2 separate regions of the Homo sapiens genome follow, and region 2 is linked to region 1. Evidence: fine-mapped expression QTL. A gene starts in region 1. The other region holds a variant in brackets. All regions are shown on one strand. Distances are from middle to middle.

Evidence for each region. PIP is the estimated chance that this variant, and not a neighbour inherited with it, causes the effect.
Region 2: its variant is fine-mapped to the expression of STEAP3 in whole blood (INTERVAL, PIP above 0.99).

What each region holds. Positions count from the first base shown.
Region 1 is chr2:119,217,219-119,229,663 of GRCh38, forward strand. It overlaps STEAP3 (STEAP3 metalloreductase), which reads left to right and starts at 6,616. Exons shown (of 6, transcript NM_182915.3): 1 at 6,616-6,670. RefSeq lists enhancers at 280-1,479, 850-1,446 and silencers at 1,655-1,949, 6,359-7,138, 7,199-7,268.
Region 2 is chr2:119,260,053-119,271,989 of GRCh38, forward strand. STEAP3 (STEAP3 metalloreductase) reads left to right here. Exons shown (of 6, transcript NM_182915.3): 6 at 3,005-5,600. The coding sequence ends at 3,286. LOC105373581 (a long non-coding RNA gene) reads right to left here and starts at 10,954. Exons shown (of 2, transcript XR_001739666.3): 1 at 10,622-10,954; 2 at 5,573-9,452. RefSeq lists an enhancer at 1-137 and a silencer at 5,272-5,371. The variant T/C (reference allele first, on the strand shown) is at 6,875.

The DNA.
Region 1 (12,445 bases):
GTTTCCTGATTCCCAGACCAGGGTGCCAACAACACCTACTGTTCATGTGAGAAAAGGAGAAAGAGGAGGAGGGGCCACTGGCGTCTTTTGCCCACCTGGGGTTCCTCGCTGTGGGAGAGGGGGAGGCCAGAGGACAGCAAGTTCCCTGAGAGCCTCTCAGAGAAAAGGAGGGTTTAGATCATCACACAGGATAAGGAAGAAGACCTTTTCCAAGGGGGTGGAGCAGAGCCTGCCTGGAGGTAAATTTCCTTTGGGAACTGTCTTCTTCAGTATTTCCCTTCCTCTCTGAACACCGTTTCTTTTCCTTTCAGATTATCTGACAGCCTTTTAATGAACACCTACTAAGTGCCCAGCACTTTCCTGGGAACTTAATTCTTACAACCTGTTAAGAGGTCTATACACTCATTTTACAGTGGAGGAAATGGAGACTTAGCGGAGATGTGAAATTTGAACCAGGTCCGTGTGGTTTCAAAGCCTGCGCATGTTCCTTTACCCTATGGAAGCCTCCAGAAGCCAAGGTCTCATCTCCCCTCTTCCCTGGAGGCCCCAAACCTGGGTAGCTGTGCCCCTAGACCTTTGAGGGAGGGTCTCGAGCCATTATCTCCCTTACCTTTTCTTGCAGTGACTTGGCTTCTCCCAGGCTGCCGTAACCAGCAAACGCCTAAAGATGGCTCTGAGACGATGGCCTTCTGTGTGTGTGTCCATGAAATCAGGTAGTACACCACACAGAACCAGACTCTCAGTGACATGCCTGATATTCCACAGACCTGCATCCGAGCTGTGCAGATCTCAGGTAGACACAACCAGTGATTGGGGATGGCTGGTAGGATCTTGCCTAGGCAGGCCAGGGAGCTCTGTGAGGAGTGTTTGGGAGAAAATCCCCCAGGTTCATCTCCCTGCATGGACTGCCCCTGCTGGGCCCTCACACTAAGCTGGTCCTGGTCCTCAGTACTGAGGGATCACCACAGGTGTGTAGGCCACAGCTCACAGGAGCCCTCCACCTAGCGGGTCAAAGGTAGTGGAAGATCTGAGAGTCAGGCAGACCTGGTCCAAATCCCGGATCTGCCATTTCCTCACTGCATGATACTAAAAAAGTCACTTCTTCATCTGAAAAATGGGGCTGATCCCACCCATTCTGCAGGGTCTCAGTGGGGATTGAAGGGGGCTGACCTCAATGTAGCACGATGCCTGCCCCAGGTGGGACTTCAGCAAACTCTCTTTCCTTTCCCTTCCCTCCCCTTGAAGGCCAAGACCAAGGAAACAGAATTGGGCATGCCAGAACATATCCCAGCCCTGTGGGGTGTATTTACCTCCACTTCTGATCACAGTGTGTTTGCGTATGACCTTGAGGCCAGTGACTTTTACACCTTGCCTATGCTGGGCTGGGCTGTGACTTGGCTGTGACTTGCCTGCCCTGAAGCCAAGCCTCAGCTGACATGTGTCTTTCCACCACCCCTGCTGTGCTGAGTGAGCACCAGCCACCTGTCCCATTGTTCCTGCCCCAGGCTGTGTGTGGAGAGTGGTCTGACAGGGCAGACAACACCCTACACTCCAGATGTGTTGAGGTGAGCTCTGGGGGTCAGGAAAGAAGCAGGGAGGGGCACAGTGTGAACATCCTGTGCAGATTTCCCCCCAACTGGCCCCCCAGCTGGTTGGGTTTTCTTTTCTCAGTAACTCCTGGCAGAAGTCCAAGGAGGCCTCCTTCTCCCAAACCCTCTGTCCTTGGCTCAAAAATCCAGCAGAGGACGTGCCACGACCACGAAAGGTGACAGCAGTCAAGGGGAAAGAGGACTCCCTTACTGGAGTGCACAGAAGTTTCCTATTTATTTTGCTTACGCGGTTGACTTTTTCCAAAGGCTGCTTGGGACGGCTTACCTCGAAAAGCTTAGCAATAAGGCTAGTAGTAAATCAGACAAAAAAATCATGGACTGGGGGAAAGAAAGTAGCATTTAAATATATTTAATAAGGACGATATAGTCGTGAACATGTGCCTGAGTATCCTGGCTACCACAGTAAAAGGGGAAATATGATCAGTTATGGGAAAAGAGTAAAAATATTAATCATGATTTTTTTTTTCTTGGAGCTTTGTGTAATAGGCACTGATGTTGAAAAGGGTAGAGTTATTTTTCCATATTTGTAGAAATTCAGAAGATTATCAGACTATTTGCCTCACAAGGACTTTTTAGCAAGCAAAAAGTATGATATTGTCATGCACCCTGGTGAGGGGAAGTGTCATCCAGTTCTAGGTTTCTGTGAATCTACCTTGATGCAGGTGTTCAGGGAGTAGTGAGTTTCCTCAGTTGTAATGTAGACCAGCGCTTCTCAAACTTAAACACGTATACAACCTCCTAGGGGGTCTTGTTAAAATGCCATTCTAATTTGGGAGCTTTGGGGTGGCCTGACACTCTGCCATTCTAAAACCCTCCCAGGCCATCATGATCACCACCTTCCGAGCAGCAAGGGGTTAAAACCCAGGCATCTCCCATGATCTAGTAGTGAGTGCCTTTCTAATCGCCCCCAGCTGAAAGGCAATGCAATGTTATCATAGACGGGCAAGAAGAATCTCTTCCTTGGCTCTGTAAATGCTTCCGGGATGTGCTGGGTCAGCCTCCCTCCATTCTGGTTGGCGATCTTGGTCTAGTCACAAGCCAAGACCGTTGATCATACACAAAAGTTTAAGTACCTACTACGCGCCAGGAAGCTCCCTCAGAAAGATGGTTGGTCCTGCTCCCCCACCCACCCTCCACCCTGGCATCTTTTATCCACTCTTCCTTCAGCAACTGCCTTTATCAATGCTCCCTTGAGCCAAAATAAACAAATAAAAAGCAACTTCCTTTGGAAGCTACTCCATACTCTTGCGCTGGCCACAGTTACATCTCCCTGCAGATACACAGATTCTCATGACACAGAGCTCAGACAGTGCTTCCTCTCTGGAGGGCTCATGTTTCGAGAGAAGACTGGAAGGAGGACAACCTTATGCTCCAGTAGAATTCCAAATTCTGGGGTGCAGGGACATTTCGTGTGTGTATGTGGAGGGGGGGGTGTCCTAATGCCCTGTAAGCCACACTTTATAATGCTGTACAATATTGGGTCACCATCATGGGCCATGGAAAGCAGAATCTGTGAGGTTCAGTCCCAGGCTCCAGCACCCCTTTGTCAGCTGGCCTCCCCGCTCAGTGCCCTCTCCCACTACCTGCCCTGCCTCAGCTCTGACTGCTGCTGATGTGCCTCCACCCATCAGGTCATTGTGATGGCAAAGACAATGCCTCCATTTGCCCTGAATGCAGCCTTACATAGGAAAGAGCTTCCTGTGCTCCAGAACTTGGAGGAGTCCTGCAGCACCTGGTCTAGTGGGGAGAGCATCAGTGGGGAGCGGCACCTTTCCTGCAGCCACGGCCCACTGGGCAGGACCAGATCCAAGTGGCCTGGCTTCTGGCTAGGGTGTCAGAGTACATTGGGGCATACAGCTTCCCGTGGCCATCTCGTTTTCATGGAGGATTTATTTTGTGAAGTGGACCTGCTCTGTCCCATCCTATAAATGCTGGATTAATCCAAGAAGCTGAGGGTGAGCAACATCCCTCTCCTTCCTGATCAAATAAGAAATAAATCTAGATTTTCTCCTGGATGCTATTCTCTTCTTAGCCAAACAGCTAACCTTGTCTTCAAGGAAAAAGGGCAATCCCAGGGGCTCTGTAAATTGAATATTCAGCAACTCCAGGGGCAGACATCCCTAAGTGCATAAGTGGAGCACCCCTCTGAATCAGCATCACACCAGCTGGGGGCATAAAAAGGAGAGCAGAGTAGGCAGGAGCTGTGGGGACATTTCTGAGATGCTAAAAGAGGCAAGGAAGTGTGAGGACGGGTGTGCATTCATGCAACAGGTATTTACTGAGCACCTACTATGAGCCAGGCAGTGCTCTATCCATTAGAGATACGGAATTGAATAAAACATAAAAATCCCTGCCCAGGAGGAGCTCACATTTCTATGGGAGAAGACAGTTACTGAAAAACAGTCCAAAAAACTCTATTTTATAGTGTGTTCAGAGGTAATACAGGCTATGGGGAAAAAAAGAAAGCAAGCAGGTACATGGATGAGGAATGGGGGCGATCAGCGTGGGCCTCACAGAAATGATGACCTTTCAGCCAAGACTTGGAGGAGGTAGGGAGGGTACCTGGGGATGCCTAGGGTCCAGGCAAGGGGAACGGCAGGGGTCAGGATCCTGTCAGATTCATCTGAGGTGGGACTGAATGTGAGCAGAGAGAGGGAGACAGAGGATGAGGGCAGAGAGAAGGCCAATCACACTGGGCCACGGCTATTGCAAGGACTTTACTTTTGCTGGGGGAGGGGGTAGAGTTTTGAGCAGAGGAGAAATGCGATCTGGCAAACATCTTGCAAGGATGGCTCTGACTGTTCTATCCTTGGCAGAGGACACCAGAGTCTGGCCCATAGAAGGTGCTCAACAAAGCTCAGCACATTGCACTCCTCCCTGGAGTAGGAAAGGGCTCGTCTGCTTTGGGAAATTTGGCTCTCAAGCTTCTGGAAACACCTGACCCCATGCCAGGTGAGACAAGCTCACACTCAAGGCCCCCTTAGTCCAACGGTCAGTGGACAGAACAAGCACCAAAGGTCAACGGCGTGGGCGGTGGCCTCTCTGCCAAAGTGTGTGGGCCCAAGTAGGGTATTCACCTCCCTCCCTGTCTGTGAGAAATTTCAGACCCCTCTACTTTTTCCAGCAGGAGTTCATGTTCCTTTTAAGATAATCCTCTATAGACCTCTGGCAGCCCAGCCTTCAAAATGTCTCCCCCTGTCTCTCTTACTCATGGAGAGCCCCGCTTCCCCGCCTCAAAAAAAAGTCTTCCTCTCTCTTACTCATGCATGGAGAGCCCCACAAAAAGACACTGGTTCCCAGGGATTCTTCCAAAGATGCTGGAAGACCTCTCAGTGTTTGCATTTCCCAAGCTCGGTTTCCTTGTGCTGTCCTTGGGCATTAAAGGAAGGCTATTCAGCCATCCCCATCAGCAGGAGCAGGCATCAAAAGAACAGCTACTGCAGGGGGAGCATATTAGGGGCACCAGAGGGGGCTAGGAACTGGGTCTTGTCTTCTCAAAGTTTACAACCCACTGCAGGGGCCACTCACCAGCCCTGGCACCCTAAGGGCAGGAACCTCCATTGGGCACGTGTGTCTCCAGCACTGGGAGCACTGTCTGGCACCTGGGGCACTGTGAGTGTTGAATGGATAAAGGACCTGTAAGAATTGCCATAAGAGGTGTTGCCCTGGGGCAAGGTGGGACAGGAAAGTTCTTGCAAGAGAAGAGAGGCTCTGGCCTTGGGCCCTGGCTGAGCAGAGAGCTGGGAGGTGGGTATTCGGGTAGGAGGAAAGCTGTGGAGGGGGAAAGCAAACTGCCTGCGGGGGTGGGGGGGTTCTCGGCGGGAGTTGGGGGTGGAGGGAAAGGCGCTTTACAGCAGCACTCCCTCCACAGGGAGACCAGAGCTCTGCCTCTTCCTCCCCACCGTGCCCTTTGGGGTCCAGTTGTGGGGCCTTCCTTGAGGCCCAGCTCCTGCCTCTGGCCTCCGGAGGCTTATCTCCCCAACAGAGGCTGGCTCCCCAGAAAACAGGATTCTTAGACTTCCTAAAAATAACCTGAAGCTCCTTATCAGAGGCTAATAGTGTATGTCTCCCAGGAATACTCTAGAAAGAGTACCAGGGGTCAGGAACCCCCACTCAGCCTCCACGAATCTGAGCGGAAAAGCCCGGGTCTCCTCACCTGTAAAGAAAATAACTGCAGCCGGCAAATGTGACCACAGGTGAGAAGGGGCTTCGGACCAGGGCGCACACCTCTAGAGAGGTGCCCACAGACAGCCTCCCCTTACTTACGCCCTGCTTCGCTGCAGTGCTGTGAAGCCATCGGCATTGGAAGTGCGGAGGGCAGCGGGCAGTGCCCCAGGGGGAAGGGGGGACGGGTAGGGTTTCAGAGCCCAGAAGGCCTAGACAGGGAGGCAGCTCCGGGAGAAAGGTACCCGCCATCCCACCGGTCTTGGAACCTGAGGACTGCTGGGAAGGGTCAAAAGTCTGCCCTAAGGGTGGACAAGGGACAGAGATTGGGGGGGGACCACAAAGGCCTGGGCGCAACCTTGTTGAGAGGGAAGGGATCCGGACCCAATCTGGAGCCCTGGTCTCTTCCCACCTGCAACCGTGGCTGCCACTTGGCCTCGGTTATAAAATGGACAAGGATTCGAGGTGCTCCTCAGGTTAAGAGAGGGGGGCCTAGAGGTCACCCTGGCCTCGGTGCCCTCCGTGGCCGGGTTAAGAGGAGGTCCCGGAGTTCTGCTCACTTCAGCCGTGTGCCGGGCACTGCAAATCAGGAAGTGTTGGCGCCGGCTGGCGACCTCCCGCCTGGGGCCAGGGGAGGAGGGTGGTTGGACGCTGCCACCGCTGCCGGGGCTGTGCAGGGCTGGGCGGGGAGCGAGGACCCGGCGGCTCCTGATTGCGGCCCCGGGGGAGGTGGCCGAGCCGGATAAGCTGCGGCGGGCTGGAGGGCGGCCACCTCCCCTGCAGGTCCGGCCCTCCCGGGCGGGTGGGGCGCGGGGGAGGAGGAGCCTCGGGCCGAGCCACCGCCTTCGCCGCGGACCTTCAGCTGCCGCGGTCGCTCCGAGCGGCGGGCCGCAGAGGTGAGTGTACCCTCCCCCGGTCTCCGCGGGGCTGCGTGCTGCGCCCGGTCCCCGAGACGCCCGCCCGGTTGCACCCTGCGCCGTCGCTGCGCGGACCTCGGGTGCCGCCACACGTCTGGAGGCGACTTCTGTCCCCTGGGACCGAGCCACGTGCGCCCGGCGGCAGAGAAACCGGGTTCCGGGGCCCCCACCCCGTGTGCCTTCCTTCCCTAGGCGTGGAAGCCGCTTGCGCCGCGCAGGTTAGGCAGGGCCGGCGGCGACAGTGGCGGGGAGCAGGCTCCGGAGCCCCGGGTGCAGATGTGGGCGCCCCTCCGGATGACCCCGGCTGAGTCCACAGGTCCCGTGTGCCCCACGGCTGGGGCTCTGGCCAGCGGTCCCAAAGGAGGGCTGGTAGCTGTGGGCGGGGATCTTCCAGGCTCTTCCTCGCCAGACCTCCCAGTCCCTTCGCAGCCGAACAGGGCAGGGACAGGGGCAGGTGCAGGGGCTGGGCAGGGGCGCCCGACCTTGGTCCCCAGGAGGAGGCTGGCCTCACCAGTGCCCGCCTCTGCCCGCGGAGCCCTTGCCTGGCAAAGTTCCCCCTCCTGCCCGGCAAAGCTCCCCCTCCTGCCCACTTCCCCGAAATTTGGGGACAGGCTGCCCGGAGAGGTGTGGTTGGAACTTTGGTCACTCTGGGTAAATGAAGGGGAGGGTGTGCCCAGATAATATGCGGTTTGGGGACCAGAAAGCCGGATCCGTGGGGAGAAGCAGGAAGGTCCCGCTGGAGCCCTGGCAGAGGGCACAGAGAGGCCTCCCAAATATCCAGGGCCACCTCAGAGATGGGCTCCAGAAGTGGGGATTCTGGAAATGCCCCCAGGGAGGTATTTCTGTCCATCAGAGTGCAGCCATAATATAATTAACAGCAGATATTCCCATTTATGTGTGCCAGGCATCTTGCTAAGGGCTTTGAGCACAATATCCCAGTTAATCCTCACAACAGGAAGGCACCATTATCTCTTGTTAAAAATGGGGAAACAGCCTCAGAGAGTCCACGTATTTTGCAAGGATACACAGCTAGGAAGTTGCAGAAGTAGAATTTGAACCCAGAGTTATCTGACTTGGAGCCCAGAGGAACCTACCACTGGGGCGAAACAGGCTGTGTCCTCACGGGGATTCTGGCAGCCCCAAGAATACAGTGCTGAGAGCCAGAAGGTCCACAAAACCAAAGGGTCTCACCTGGGTGTGTCCTCTCAGTCACCTGCAAGGCTTGTTAAAAATATAGATCCCCAAGTCCCATCCGAAGCTGACTGAATCAGCTAGGGGCACCTGGAGGACCCAGACTATGTCTTACTCATCTCTGTCCCTGGTGGCCTGCAGAGGGGCTGGCAAGGAGCAGGTGCTTAGTGAATGTCTAATGGGTAAGTGGGCGGGGTGGGGTAGATGGTGTCACTAGTGTCCTGAAGGGGGCTTAAATGGAGCAGGTGGCCTCAGCCAGGCAATCCGGCAGCAGGTATGGAAGTGACACAGTCTAATGCTGGCCTCAGAGCCAGCAGGGAGCTCAGGCTGGGCCACTTGTCCACCTGGGGGTTGAACAGCCTGCCCCAGGTTTGCTGAGGTCCCCAGGACCAGGCCAGGTCAAGCTGGGATCACACATGTTCCCTCTCCAGCCTAGAGATGTCAAACAGGTAGATTCCTCTCCCATTCATATCTCCTATCCTTGGCCCACAGCCCTTCCCTTCTTGGACTTATCAGAGACCAAGGTGCTGGGCAGGGCTTCAGGTGGTTAAAAAGTGAAAGTTCTTGAGTGAAGTCCAAAGGCGCACACCTGAGAGCTGAGTGGGCAAAAGGTCGCTGGCTGAGTGCTGGGGATAGTCTGGCTTTGGAGTCAGATGGACGAGTCCAAATCTCAGCTCCTTACCCCGTAACATGAAGCCCTCAGCTCTCTGAACCTCTGTTTATTTGCAAAACCTTGCCAAGGGCTTCAAACAGGATATCCTCATAAAACAAGTATGCCTATTTGGGGGACTAAGTGTGTGAAGTGCTGAGTTTTAGGAGTGCAGTAAATATCGGATCCCTCCTTCTTCACCTCAGGTTTGCGAGTTAACCAGTGAGGGGCCTTCCAGGCCTAGTGCTCTTGTAGACCGAACCACTAGCTTTCCTAGAGAAGGCAACTGAGGCCTAGAGAGTGGCCTCCAGGTTCCGTGCTCTGTGGCAGAGCTGGCCTTGGCTCCAAGTCCCAGGGTTCCCAGCTCAGTCTCAGCTGATGCCTCCCAGCCTGGCGGTCTACGCTGCCTGCTACATTCCCTGTCCAGCTACAAATGAACAACTGAGAGGGCTGGGGTGAGATTCAGGCAGGCTGGGGCAAGGGAAGGAAGCAGGTCATTTGGGGAGTCGGGCTCTCTGGTCTTCCAGCTGAGGCTGGATCCACTCTTTCCTGTCCACCCACGGTGCGTAGTGGCCAGGTCTTCCTGAGCTGAGCAGGTTGAGCACTATGAAACTGCTTTCTAGCATCTAGACCAGGGAGTTGCCTCTTGATTTAAAATGAGGATGTTTACCAGTTTAAGTAGTTATTAAAACCTAAGGCCAAGTTGGTGCCTTTCCTCCCTCTAGGAGTTGGAAGGGTGTGTGCTTTTTTCTGCTCCTACCCCACCCCTGCCAAACCATCCCAATTTGAGAGGCTGTGGAGATTACAGAACTTGGAGAGGAGAGGGGCAGGGATCGGGGTTGGAGACTAGATGGTTTTCAAACATTGGGCTACAGAAGTCCCTCTTCCTCCCATCTGTCTCCTGCAGCTGGGTCCACCCACCTGTCCAACACAGCCTCCCACAGGTCCCGGGCCTCTTTGTGCTCCAACCGTCACATCCTTGGCATGCCACACACCCTCACCATCCTGCCTGAAATGCCAGTCCTCATCACTGACATTCAGCCTCCCATGTGCCAGCATCCGGGCCAAACACTTTATCTACAGGAGCTCATTTGTACCTGGAGACTCTTAGGAGGTCGATAATGTTATTCTCCCAACCATGTGACTTTCCAACTCCATATGGACCCCAACCTCTTTTTTTCCACCCCTAACCTGAGACTCCTAGCCACTAACTAACTGCCACATTCTCCTGTCCAAATTCTGCCTCATCGGTTATTCATTCAACAAACACTTACCGAGCACTAACTTTGAGCCAGGCACTCTAAGACCAGCTGAGTCCCACTTCTGGCAGGATGAGTGTTGTTGTCATCAACCACCCCACAAACACCCGTGCCCTCTGCGTACTTGCGAATCTGAGTGAGGAGACACGGTGGCAGTAAGGCTCAGGACCTATAGCTCATGTGAGTGAGCAAGGATGCAAAACCAAAGACACCCGCTCCCCTCACCCACTGAGCTGGAGGGATCAACCACTGTGCCTGCCATCAGGGCTGATGGGCGACTGCTTGTGGATCACAAACTCTTGCGTTGTCACTTCAACCCAGGGGCAGAGTGTGTTCCTCTTCAGGTGTGGCCTGGTCTCGTGAGCCCTGCACTGAATGGGCCAGGCGTTCATTGCTTCAGCACCGTAAGAACACTGTCACCGGAGAATTGTTCGATACTCAACTCTTCCCAGTCAGTCTGTCTTCTGCATGCCCACAGTTACCGGGCAGCGTGGGCAACAAGTGAGCACTGATTGTTCCGCAATCAGGCTGTGACTTACTCCATCTCTGCCTTCTGCTTAATGAGAGCCAGGTGGGAGTTCAGCAAAGATCACATGTTTAAGCCTTGTTATTAAACACGTTAAAAAAATACTGCCCCAAGATTATAAAGCCGACTTCGGTACATATAAAGAGATTTGGGGTCGGTGAATGGGCCCACTAAGCTTTATTTTGTGGTGTCAGCTGTCTTGGTTCATGTGTAGACAGCAGGGCTCCCAAAGCCAGCATGCTGGGGTCTGTGAGGGAACAAGCTTCCCATTTCTTGTATTTATTTATTTATTTATTTATTTATTTATTTTTTGGAGACAGAATCTCGCTCTGTCACCTAGGTTGGAGTGCAGTGGTGCCATCTTGGCTCACTGCAACCTCTGCCTCCCGATTTCAAGCAATTCTCCTGCTTCAGCCTCCTGAGCAGCTGGGATTACAGGTGTGCTCCACCACACCCAGCTAATTTTTGTATTATTAGTAGAGATGGGGTTTTGCCATGTTGGCCAGGCTGGTTTTGAACTCCTGACCTCAGGTGATCCACCTGCCTCGGCCTCCCAAAGTGCTGGGATTACAGGTGTGAGTCACCACAGCCGGCTGCTTCCCATTTCTATAAGCATCCGACTGGTGGGGTGGCCAGTAGGCTGTGGGGAGTGGTGCGTGATTTTCCTGGTGGGCTTGAGAGAGTAACAGTATACCCCCAGTCAGGGCAAGTGTCTCTCTGAAGGTGAACTCTGGGTGCACAGCTAGAGGATACAGTGGCTGTGAGCTGGGCCCTCCAGGTGAGGTCTGGCCTGCCCATTGCCACAGTGGGCTTGCTGGCATCCAGGGGGGCTTTCTGGGTGACTGCCCAGGCCTGCACATGAGTCAGTAGCACGCTGAATGCAGTGGAGTTTGAGGGGACCCACCACTGTCCATCAAATCGCCCCAACCTGGGTGAAAGGCCAGAGCAGCTGCGGGAAGTGACACCAGGCCCTCTGGAGATGACCCTCTGGCCCTTGGAGATGTCTCTGGACTGGCCAGAAAGAAGGTGGTGCCTGGAACTGGAAGGGAAGGAAGCAAGACAGTGCTGGGCCCAGCAGCCAGAAATCAGGGTGATGGGTGGGTGGAGGGGCAGGCATCTGGGAAAGCCCTGCCCTCCTGGTGTTCCCAGATCTGAAGGCTGGAGGCTGGAAACCTTGTGTCACCTGTGCTGGTGTGAGTTCCATTGGGGCTGCCGCTTACCCTCCCATGACCTTTAACATCTGGCATGGCTTGTGGGGGGTGCTGAGAGGAGGAGAAGTCTCAAGGCTGAGGGAGCTCAGGGTAGAGCCAAGGTCTCAGTGAGAACCCCAGGGGGCAGCTGTCACAGCTGACCTGGAGCCCTCCAGGAACGCGTACTCTCCAGCTCCTGTACTCTCAAAAGCAACAGAAAGGTTTGCTTTCCTCAGGTGCGGTTTCCTCACAGTGCAGCTTCTCCAAAGAGATCTGGAGACCCCCCAGCAGCTTTGACAGGAAAATAGAGTCCTATCCACCCCACACCAACACACTGAAGTAGAGACTCTGGGCCTGGGGCTGCCCAGAAACCCACCCACTTAAACTGCCCGGGCGATTCTGGTGTTCACAAATATTTGAAAGCACTGCCTGACACCTGCTGGCTCAACAGGTGTCCACCTAGGCTGGAGTACAGTGGTGCCATCTCGGCTCACTGCAACCTCTGCCTCCCAATTTCAAGCAATTCTCGTGCCTCAGCCTCCCGAGCAGCTGGGATTACAGGTGTGCTCCACCACACCCAGCTAATTTTTGTATTATTAGTTCACCTAAGCAGAGAGCGATGTGAGGGGCTGTGAGGATGTGCAGGGGTGGAGGGCACTTAGGTCCCTCCCTCAGCTGACCATAGAGCACCCAGAGTGGCAGAGGGGCCACGTGCAGTGAGTGGCCACAGCAGAGCAAGGAAAGGTGCACACAAGAACAGTCCTAAGGAAGACATGTGTTTAGGGGTTTCATATTCACTGTTTAATCATCAGGACAGAGAGGGAAAGCAACCTACCCAACGTCACACAGCTAGCACATGGCTGGACCGGAATTCACACACATCTCTGTCCAGCTAGGTCCCCCAACTAACACAGCTGCCTGTCTGAATTCAAAGCCGGG
Region 2 (11,937 bases), 43 kb after region 1:
CTGAATTTCTGGAAGTGGGGTTTGGGCACTAGTATTTTACCCAAGCTCCCCGGGTGATTCTAATGTGTAGCAAGGTTTGAAAACCACAGTCTAAAAGCCACAGACTGTTAAACTCTTGGGGATAAAGGGCATCACCCAGCCATCTTGGCAACACCAATAAGTCCACAATGAGGAGGGGTGGGAGGGCCCACAGTTAGTTAGGGCTGGGCACCTGGCTGGGGAACATCAGGGTGATTGACTTCAAGACTTACTCTTTTTTTTTTTTTTCTTTTTTTTTGAGACGGAATTTCACTCTTGTTGCCCAGGCTGGAGTGCAATGGCGTGATTTTGGCTCACTGCAACATCCACCTCCTGGGTTCAAGCGAGTAGCTGGGATTACAGGCATGCGCCACCACACCTGGCTAATTTTGTATTTTTAGTAGAGACGGGGACGGGGTTTATCCATGTCGGTCAGGCTGGTCTTGAACTCCCAACCTCAGGTGATCTGCCCGCCTCGGCCTCCCAAAGTGCTGGGATTACAGGCGTGAGCCACCGCACCCAGCCAAGACTTATTCTTGATGGTCAGTGCTGGGGACTTTTTTAACCACAGTCTTCCACACTAAGAGATTAGAATTTAGAAAAGTTGGGGTGGCTCAGAAGTTGCAGGGGATTTGGAATTCTTGACAGACACTTCTGGAAGTGGCAAGGATTTGCTTATGTGCAACTGACAGTCAAGGAGTCTTCTCTTTGGGAGGTGACCACATTAAAATGATAGGAATTCACTGTGGGTGACAGCATAAAGCCAATCGTGGCTTCCTCACTCTTCGTGGTGAGCCAGAAGTTGTTAAAGACTGGGCCAAGAAGATTCCAAAAATGGACACAAAGCCAAGAAGAACCAGAGAGGGTGAGGAAGGATAGAGAAGGTTTTATTTGGTTATTTTACTTGGGCCCAAGAATGTTGAACGTGAGAACCTGTCTGTGAAATTGTAGTGTGCAGCCATTGGAAAATGTTTATTATTATCTTTAGCAAAAGCTTTACAAGCAATTCTCCCACACCATGTTCTTTCACTCACTGACGTTCACTGTCCTGGTGTCTGTCCTGGAGCAGGAAATGAAGGGACACACACACACACACACCAGGGAGGAGCAAGAACGGGGCCCAATGTGGAATCAGACCCACTTAGAAACACTTCTGAGGGGAGTGCAAATGAGAAGCGTCTGTCAGCCGAGGCTCTGGATTGATGCCAACAAGCTGGGCTAGAAGGGAATCCAGGAGGCTCAGTCCATGCAGACCACCCAGAGGTCTCAGTGTGCCGCCACACTTAAATTACACCCTCGCAATGTCTCCTTGGAGAAAATGCATATGTGTTCATTGCTTGATGGGTCATCGCTATTTCCATCCCTGTGTAATAGACGTGGGAGGTCTCTCCCAAAGCTCTCAGTGGCTCACCAGTGCTAGCAGAATTCAGTCAGAGCACCCCTGTGCCACGACTCCCTCGCTCTCGGTGCCCTCTGCTGTGTCACTTGCCTGCCCTGTCTAGGGGACTAGATGGAGGCTACTGCAACTACTCAGCGCTTCCCCCTCTGACTTTAGCTTTGGAAATTACTTATCTCCCACTGAAGTTGATTAAGTCGCCTGCCCAGGGTTCATATCAGTTGAACCAGCACCAACAGTAGAACCTGCATCTCTTCCTTCGTGGTCCACGAGAACTCGTACATGCCAAGAGGCTGGAGTCATAGAGCAGCACTTCCCAGCCATTTTCACATTGCATCTCTTACAGAAAGTCATGCTTTGGGTGGTGGATCAGCCACTCTCGGCTGGAAGTGACCCACAAAAGCCCACACATTGTTCAAGGGGTGTGAAGCTCCATTGTAAAATGGCCGGGACCATTTCCATTTAGAGTTGGGATGGTCTCTTCTCCCAACGGTCACTAATCTCCTCCAGATGGAAGAGTAGGCCCAGCGGGGTTTCCACCCGGGTTGTTTATAACCCAGTGTGGGGTGGGAGGTGAAGGTCTAGCATGCACAGAGGGCATCTGTGTGGTGTTCTGGGGCTTTCTATACGGTGCCAGGTCACCCAGACCACAGGCCCCGTGAGTCCCCTTCGCTACTGGTGCCAAATCCACGTGCCATCTGTAAATTATTTACTCTGCATTTATCTTCAAGCTAATTTAAAATCAATCCACTTTTTGTCTGATCTTAACTTAGGCCAAATGTTATCTGTGAAATTATGATTTTGGTATGCAAGCAGACACTTGTTACTCTAATATACATTAAAATACACACATAACTAGTAAAATTTATACACACACACACACACACACATATACATGTATATGTATATATATATTTAGAGACAGGGTCTTGCTCTGTTACCCAGGCTGGAGTGCAGTAGTGCAGTGGCACAATCTTGGCTCACTGCAACCTTGACCTCTTGGGCTCAAGTGATCCTCCCATCTCAGCCTCCCAAGTAGCTGGGACAACAAGCACATGCTGCCACAGCCTGGCTAATTTTTTTGTATTTTTTGTAGAAACAGGGTCTCACTATGTTGCCCAGGGTGGTCTTGAACCCCTGGGCTCAAGCAGTCCACCCACTTAGGCCTCCCAAAGTGTTGGGATTACAGGCGAGAGCCACCGCAGCAGGCCTTAAATGTTTTTTAAACTTCTTTGAACTTAATTCCATCTGAAATCATCCAGCAGCCTCCAGAGATAACAAATAACAAAGTTAAGGAAAAAGCATGGTCATATAGTTATTGTATGGAATCCGTGTGAATTGGTGGGTCCTTAGACACCTTCAGCATAGAAGCATTATTCCCATTTTCCTGTTGTGGAAGCTGAGGCACAGAGAGTTGAGAGTTATCATAAGATCACACTAAGAGAGTGACAGGACTGGGGTTCCAACCCATAGCGGTGAGTACTAAAGCCACCCTCCTTCCCCTCCGCCAGGCCAGCAGATGAGTCGTTGGCAGGATCACTGCATCTGTCATCCCCTCGCCCTCACTCCAGCCTTTTTTTCCCTCCACAGTCCTCACTGGGCTTTGTGGCCCTCGTGCTGAGCACACTGCACACGCTCACCTACGGCTGGACCCGCGCCTTCGAGGAGAGCCGCTACAAGTTCTACCTGCCTCCCACCTTCACGCTCACGCTGCTGGTGCCCTGCGTCGTCATCCTGGCCAAAGCCCTGTTTCTCCTGCCCTGCATCAGCCGCAGACTCGCCAGGATCCGGAGAGGCTGGGAGAGGGAGAGCACCATCAAGTTCACGCTGCCCACAGACCACGCCCTGGCCGAGAAGACGAGCCACGTATGAGGTGCCTGCCCTGGGCTCTGGACCCCGGGCACACGAGGGACGGTGCCCTGAGCCCGTTAGGTTTTCTTTTCTTGGTGGTGCAAAGTGGTATAACTGTGTGCAAATAGGAGGTTTGAGGTCCAAATTCCTGGGACTCAAATGTATGCAGTACTATTCAGAATGATATACACACATATGTGTATATGTATTTACATATATTCCACATATATAACAGGATTTGCAATTATACATAGCTAGCTAAAAAGTTGGGTCTCTGAGATTTCAACTTGTAGATTTAAAAACAAGTGCCGTACGTTAAGAGAAGAGCAGATCATGCTATTGTGACATTTGCAGAGATATACACACACTTTTTGTACAGAAGAGGCTTGTGCTGTGGTGGGTTCGATTTATCCCTGCCCACCCCACCCCCACAACTTCCCTTTTGCTACTTCCCCAAGGCTCTTGCAGAGCTAGGGCTCTGAAGGGGAGGGAAGGCAACGGCTCTGCCCAGAGCCATCCCTGGAGCATGTGAGCAGCGGCTGGTCTCTTCCCTCCACCTGGGGCAGCAGCAGGAGGCCTGGGGAGGAGGAAAATCAGGCAGTCGGCCTGGAGTCTGTGCCTGGTCCTTTGCCCGGTGGTGGGAGGATGGAGGGATTGGGCTGAAGCTGCTCCACCTCATCCTTGCTGAGTGGGGGAGACATTTTCCCTGAAAGTCAGAAGTCACCATAGAGCCTGCAAATGGATCCTCCTGTGAGAGTGACGTCACCTCCTTTCCAGAGCCATTAGTGAGCCTGGCTTGGGAACAAGTGTAATTTCCTTCCCTCCTTTAACCTGGCGATGAGCGTCCTTTAAACCACTGTGCCTTCTCACCCTTTCCATCTTCAGTTTGAATGACTCCCAGGAAGGCCTAGAGCAGACCCTTTAGAAATCAGCCCAAGGGGGAGAGCAAGAGAAAACACTCTAGGGAGTAAAGCTCCCCGGGCGTCAGAGTTGAGCCCTGCCTGGGCTGAAGGACTGTCTTCACGAAGTCAGTCCTGAGGAAAAATATTGGGGACTCCAAATGTCCTCTGGCAGAGGACCCAGAAAACCACACTGGCTCCAACTTCCTCCTCATGGGGCATTACACTTCAAAACAGTGGGGAGCAACTTTTCCACCAAAGCTACAAACCTAAAATGCTGCTGCCCCAAAGCACAAGAGGGAAGAGCACCGCCGGGGCCACAGGACGTCTGTCCTCCAGTCACAGGCCATCCTTGCTGCTCCCTACTGACTCTAGCTTACTTCCCCTGTGAAGAAACAGGTGTTCTCGGCTGAGCCCCCAACCCTCTGCAGAACCAGGTTGATCTGCCACAGAAAAAGCATCTTTGAAGACAAAGAGGGTGAGGTCTTCATGAGTCTCCTGGGCCCAAAGCCATCTTCTGATGGAAGGAAGAGAGTAGGGCCAGTGAAGGCTGCCCAGAGAGAATGTCACAGATGAGGCTGCCCCTGCCCCCCCCCCGCCAGGGAGGTTTCATGAGCTCATGTCTATGCAGCACATAAGGGTTCTTCAGTGAAAAGCAGGAGAAGAGCCCACTGCAAGGATAGCTCATTAGGCACATGACCGATGCAGGGAAGGCCATGCCGGGGAAGCTCTTCCTGCAGGTATTTTCCATCTGCTGTGCCAAGGCTGAGCGGCAGAAACTTGTCTCATAAATTGGCACTGATGGAGCATCAGCTGTGGCCCACAGAGAGCCTTGCTGAGAAGGGGGCAGGTAAAGCAGAGATTTTAGCATTGCCTTGGCATAACAAGGGCCCATCGATTCCCTACTAATGAGAGGCAGGGAGAGCATGGGCAATGGAGACCCACCAATGATCCCCAACCCCGGTGGGTACTGGCTGCCTGCCCTGGGCCAGGGAATGGCTCCTTATACCAAAGATGCTGGCACATAGCAGAACCCAGTGCACGTCCTCCCCTTCCCACCCACCTCTGGCTGAAGGTGCTCAAGAGGGAAGCAATTATAAGGTGGGTGGCAGGAGGGAACAGGTGCCACCTGCTGGACAATCACACGAAAGGCAGGCGGGCTGTGTACTGGGCCCTGACTGTGCGTCCACTGCTGTCTTCCCTACCTCACCAGGCTACTGGCAGCAGCATCCCGAGAGCACATCATCTCCACAGCCTGGTAAATTCCATGTGCCTCTGGGTACAAAAGTGCCTCAACGACATGCTCTGGAAATCCCAAATGCCACAGTCTGAGGTTGATATCTAAAATCTATGCCTTCAAAAGAGTCTCTGTTTTTTTTTTTTAACCTGGTAGACAGTATAAAAGCAGTGCAAATAAACACCTAACCTTCTGCAAACTTCAGGCTTTTATTTCTGCCATGTAGATCACGTATCCATTCGTCCACTGACTCGAGAAGCCTTCAGCTTGGAGCCTGCTCTCAGGCAGGCAGTGTGCAAGGACTTGGGACTGCCAAGGTGAACACAGTGATCTGTGCTAGAGCTGGCCAATGAGGAAGGGCAGATGTGCAGACCTAAGGGACTAAGGGACATGCCAGGGAGGAAATGGGCAAGATCCAGGTGACAGAGTGTCGGGTGGGGGTGTGGGGATGTGAAAAGGTGGCTTCCTGGAGTGGTCTGAAGGCTGAGGCCTCGGTGCAGGTAAAAGCAGCAGAGCTTCTTGAATTATAATGTGCCTGGGAGTCACCTAGGAATGTGGTTCGAATGCGGGTTCTGATTTGTGGTCTGGGGTGAGGCATGAGACTGTGCATTTCTAATAAGCTCCTGGGTGACCTGTATGGTGATGATCCTCGGACACTCCGAGCGACAAGAGCTTAGATGGCATTCTTTGCCTCTGCTGTGCTTAGTCTATGGCACACTAATCTGTACACACACATCTCTGTCCCCTCAATCCTCCCCATGAGCCTGCATTCCCCTGGCAGCCCTGGCAAGGTACACGTCTGTACAATGCTATCTATGACCCCCGTGTTCTCTTAAAGGCAGAGGGAGAAACACTCCATCTTGGAGCCACAGCCTTGCACTTTGTGCTTCACGAGGGCTGCGGCACATTGGCCCTGGGTCCATCAGGAAAACAAAAGGAGCTCTCTTCAGAGACCACCCAACTACCATGCAGCCGAGCCTTCCTGCTGAAGCAACCAGACTGCCTTATGGTACAGGGCAAGGGGGCAAGAAACCCAGTGCAGAAAGTGGTCTAGTGGCTAAAAACCATTTCTTGGGAACAATAACCAAAATACAGCCCTGCCATTTTGAGTTCATTATAAGGATTTTCCAAAGAAAGAACCATGGCCAGTAAATACATTCATGACAAACAATTTTCAAGGTGAAAAGCATCTTGTCCTTGGAGGTTTACTTTTCTCCTCTGTGTCCTCCCATGCATAAAGCTGAGAGAGTTAACTTTACAAAGAAGTAATCAAATAGATGAAAAATACCCCCTACCAAGGTAGCCCATGTAAGAACTAAGGAACCACCAAAATCACGCATATCAGTTCAGGAGAGAAAGTTATCATTTAGCTGTTTGACACGTTGAATCTTTTCCAAAAGCAATGAAGCTAGCTCTTGGAGTGCAGAAGCTCTCTTGTGCTGGGCCACTTCCCTGGTCTCAACCAAGAGAGAG[T/C]TGGCTCCACTAAAGCAGAAATTCTCAGTCCCATCCACAATCACTGACTTCTTCTAACAAGTCTTCTGAAAATCTCTTTACTAATTTCTGAAATGAAATTCAGAAATAATATAACCTACCTATGCATATAATTTTTAAAATCAGTGTAAGGTCTAAATTGAAACATAAAGTAGAAATAATTTACACTAATACATATATAACATTAATAATGAATAATTATTATATTAATAGCCTTACAATAAATAAATTGGTTTTTAAATACAGTATATTCAACTAAACATTGTTGGCTCATTTGTAGCTGACATTTTAAGATAAAAGTGCGTGTGTGTGTGTGTGTGTGTGTGTGTGTGTGTACTGTGTCCACTGTGAGTGTTTGAAATTGTGTTGAATGCTATGAAGAAATCACATAGGGTGAAGACCAATAAATGTCAACTAGATTTGGAAACATGGAAACCTAATGGTGAGAATTTCAGTAGGATGTTGAGGGTAAAATCCAGATTGAGTATGAATAAGAAGGAAATGGAGACAGTAATACTGGACAACTCTTCTGAGATTTGGCTGTAAAGCAAGGGAAAGAGAAAGGATGGGTAATGGGAGGGGTATGTGGGGGTTGAAGGAGGGCTGGTTATTTTTTTCCATGGTTCTGACCTAAACATGTTTTAAATGCTTCTGGGGAATAAACAAGGTGAAAAGGAATGATGGAAGATGAGAGAGAGAATGATAGAGAATCACAAAGTCCTGGAGGACATGGGAAGAGATGGAGTGCAGAGTACAGGTGGCTTTAGAGGAGGAGATTGTCCTTTACAACTAGGAGAGAAGGGGAAAAGAAGTGGCTGAGTATTGAGGGGAGGGGCTAGTTGTGATGACACAGCATGTGACAGTTCCCTTCTGATGTTGTCTGTTCTTTTTAAAAAAACAGTCAATCCCTTCTGCTGAGAACAGGGGAGGAGGAAGGTTTGGCTCTGAGGGCTGAAGAGGGACAAAATGGCTGAAAATAATTGTTGGAGAAAATGTAAAGGGAGCAGACCAGAAAAACTGATAGGGTTTAAAAAACAAAAACAAAATTTGATTATAACCATTTTTTATCCAGAGTGAAATATACCAAATTGTGTTTCCTGGGAAGTGTGCAAAGTAGATTTTTGTTTAGTTAAATTCCATTTTCCCTCACCAGTTTCTTTAATAATTCTAGGTAGTTTGTCTTAGTTCAGTGTCATCTCTAATAGTCACTCAGAAATGCCTTGGCTTCATTTTTGTTTTCTCTATTCAGAAATGAACAGTCACAAATGGAACTTTGATGCACTAGGCAACCAAAAACTTCCATTGCCAATCCTCCCATAAAGTGAATAATCAACACTCTTGCTTATTGAGGGTTGATTGCATTTATTGGACCAGAAACCTAACTTATATCTATAATTCTCATATATGAAGAGTCTATTCTTAAAAATCTAATTTTAGCCAACATTTAAAACTTCTGCAACTAAAGAATTCATGTGGGCTTTTAACTTCCTGAAGGGTCTTCCTGCTTAAAACACAATTAGTTCCTAAACAAAAGACATACTTTTTAAGGCAATACTGAATTTGCAGGAAGTAAGGGAAATCATCAGGACAGAAAATAAATGGGAACACACACAAAAATCAAAAACAAACAAACAAAAAAAAGCTCTCCTTGGCTCCTGGCAGAAGCAAATGCAAGTCCTTTCTGAAGAAAAGCAACCTCAGTTCAGATCAACCAAATAAGAAGCTTAATATTTACAATTAATAAACCATAGGTGAGACTCAGTAGAAACAAAACCTGAAGGACTTCGAAGAACAGAATCGTCAAACATACGATAATGATATATTAAGTATCTAAAGAATTAAAAAATAGAGTTGCAAAAAATAAATAAGCAATAATATACTATAAAGGCACAGGCATGATGAAAAATGGAATTTTCAGAAATAAAAAATTGTCAGAAACAAACTTAATTTGGTGAGTTTAACAGCAGATTGGAGAAAATCGTGAATTTTAAAAGCTAAAAAAATTACCCAGAATGCAAAAGAGAGACAAATGGATAGAAAATATAAAAAAGTCATTAACAGAGATAAAGGTTAAAATGAACAACTATAACATACAAATAGCTGGAGTTCCAAAAGGAAAGAATGGTGAAGAGGCAAATTTTAAAGAGATAAAGACCAAGAATTTTCTAAAACTAGTGAATTACTGGTATCCAAAAATGCTGAAAGTGCAATGTATACCATCAGGCAGGAAAGCAAATTTAAAAGTAAAGCTACAGTTAGCCACACTAAGCAGCTCTTAAAAGCAGTCGAGAAAAATTATAAATGACCTACAATTGTGGAATTACAACAGACTTCTTAACAATATCAATGGAGATTAGAAAATAGTAGTCTAATATCTTAAAAGTTCAGGGGGAAGTGATTGCCAACTTAGAATTTTAAATCAAGCAAAACTGACTTTCAAGATTGAGTGCAAAATAAGAATGTTTCAGATTACAGAAATTGAGAGCTTACCAACAGTTCTTTTCTGAAGAACTTCTAAAAATATACTTCAGATAGAAAGAAAATGATCCCAGAGGGGAATCTGAAAACAAGAAGAAACAGTGAGTGAATAAGTGGTGACCCTCAAGGTAAATCTAAGCAAACCTTTTCTCTATAGAAGAAGAATATCTATGTAAGTGTTTTTTTTTAAAGGACATACTAGGCTGGGCACGGTGGCTCACGCCTGTAATCCCAACACTTTGGGAGGCCAAGACAGGTGGGTCACCTGAGGTCGGGAGTTGGAGACCAGCCTGACCAGCATGGAGAAACCCCACCTCTACTAAAAATACAAAATTAGCTGGGCGTGGTGGCACATGCCTATAATCCCAGCTACTCAAGAGGCTGAGGCAGGAGAATTGCTTCAACCTGGGAGGCGGAGGTTGTGGTGAGCCGAGATAGTGCCATTGCACTTTGGCCTGGGAAACAAGAGTGAAACTCCATCTCAAAAAAAAAAAAAAGACATACTAACTGGCTAAAAACAATGATATGTAAATAAGGGATTGAGTTAAAATGTTCTGAGGCTCATATTTGTTTAGAGGTTGGGGTTGGGAAAGTTATGGGCTAATTTAGATCTTGTTAAGTACATCTAGAAAAATGTCAAGGGTAACCATAAAAAGCTAAAAGTATAATGCCAAAATCCTTAGGAAGGGAAAAAAATTTTAATTGGATTTTTGAAAAACAAGAAACAAGAAAAATAGCATAGGTAAAGCAAGACACAGAAAACAAAAAGTAGGTATTAGAAAAAATCCACATATATTCATAATTGTGAAACAGAATACCATGCACTGGTATCAATCCTTATGAGGGGCACACCATATGTTGGATACCAGGAGAGGACTCTAAACACTTTGCCAATTTTTGTAAAGATTCCTGTATCTGGTGGATGCCCAGGTCTGGCAGGAGTCTTTACACAAACACAGCTTCTAAAGGTTTTGCACAAACCCAGCTGCCGGAGTCTGAGTCTGGTATGACAAAACACCTGCACAAGTCAGGCAAAGCCGACTTATTACTCACAGATATGTAGCAAAGATAGAAGCATAGAATCCGTGGGGAGCTGGTCCCCCAGAACTCAAGCAAGCTGCCCAGGGCAGACGGAATCCCATCTGCATATGCCCAACTTCACACTACAGCTGAGGGACCCTGAAAGCAGTCCACTCTGGATTTTATACCCTACAGGTACTTAAATCACTGAGCTTAAGCATTGCAGAGCACCTTGTTCTGAGAGGAACAAAGACAAAGCCCAGGCTGTTCTAGATGGTTCTTCCTTATCCCAGGATGTTACATTCTCAGTACATTCTGCCCAAGAATTGTAAGAAGGAGCAGGGAGAGCTGAATCAGCCAAGGTCATTCAAGGACTTGTCCTCCTGCAATAATCACAATAAATACAAATGGATTAAACACTTCAGTTGAAAGATAGAGATGGTCAGATTGGATTTTAGTTATATTTATAAGTGGCATACCTAAAGACTCAAGGTAAAGACATGGAAAAAAGTAAGTTAGGCAAAATCAAACTAAATTAACATTGGAGTGGCTAGATTATTATCATATAAAGCATATTTTATGAGAAAAGACATTATTAGGAATACAGAGAATTACTACATAATAATAAAATAAAGATTTAAATATTTTAGAATAATGTGCTTTTAATAATATAGCCTCAAAATATGTAAAGCAAAAAAAAAAAAAGAAAGAAATGTGAACAAATCCCTCATTATACTAAGAGATTATAACAAACAGACAATTATATGCATGTGTGCACATGTATGTGTGTATAACAACACAAGTTGGATATAATACGAAATAGAAAAATTATATTTTTCTCAAGAAAACAAATTGAAAACATATTATACCATAAAGCAAATTTCAATAAATTTCAAATAATAAGTATCGGCATTCTCTCAAGTGAGTGCAAGAAAGTTAGAAATCAAGAACAAAATGCTATATATATGTGTGTATATATATGTATACATACATATCATATATATGTATACATACATATATATGTATGTATGTATACATATATGTGTACACACACATATATATCATATATATATATTTATATTTTAGAGACAGGGTCTCACTTTGTCACCAGGCTGGAGTACAGTGACACAACGATCACAGCTCATTGCAGCCTCAAACTCCTGGGCTTAAGCAATCCTCCTGCCTCAGCCTCCTGAGTAGTTGGGACTACAGGCACACACCAGTGTGCTCAGCTAATTTTTAATACTTATTTTTTAGAGATGAGATCTTGCTATGTTGCCCAGGCTTGTCTCAAACTCCTGGCTTCAAGTAATCCTCCTGCCTTGGCCTTCCAAAATGCTGGGATTACAGGCATGAGCCACCATGCCTGGCCTAAAATGCTATATTTTAAATGTCTATACATTTTAAAGCTTTAAATACACATTTCTAAATAAGTCATTAATCAAAGAGAAAATTACACTGAAAATTCTTCAAAATTTTTAAATGTGAATGATTATTAAATATCTTCATATCAAATATTTAGAGATGCAGCAAAAATACTGCTTGGA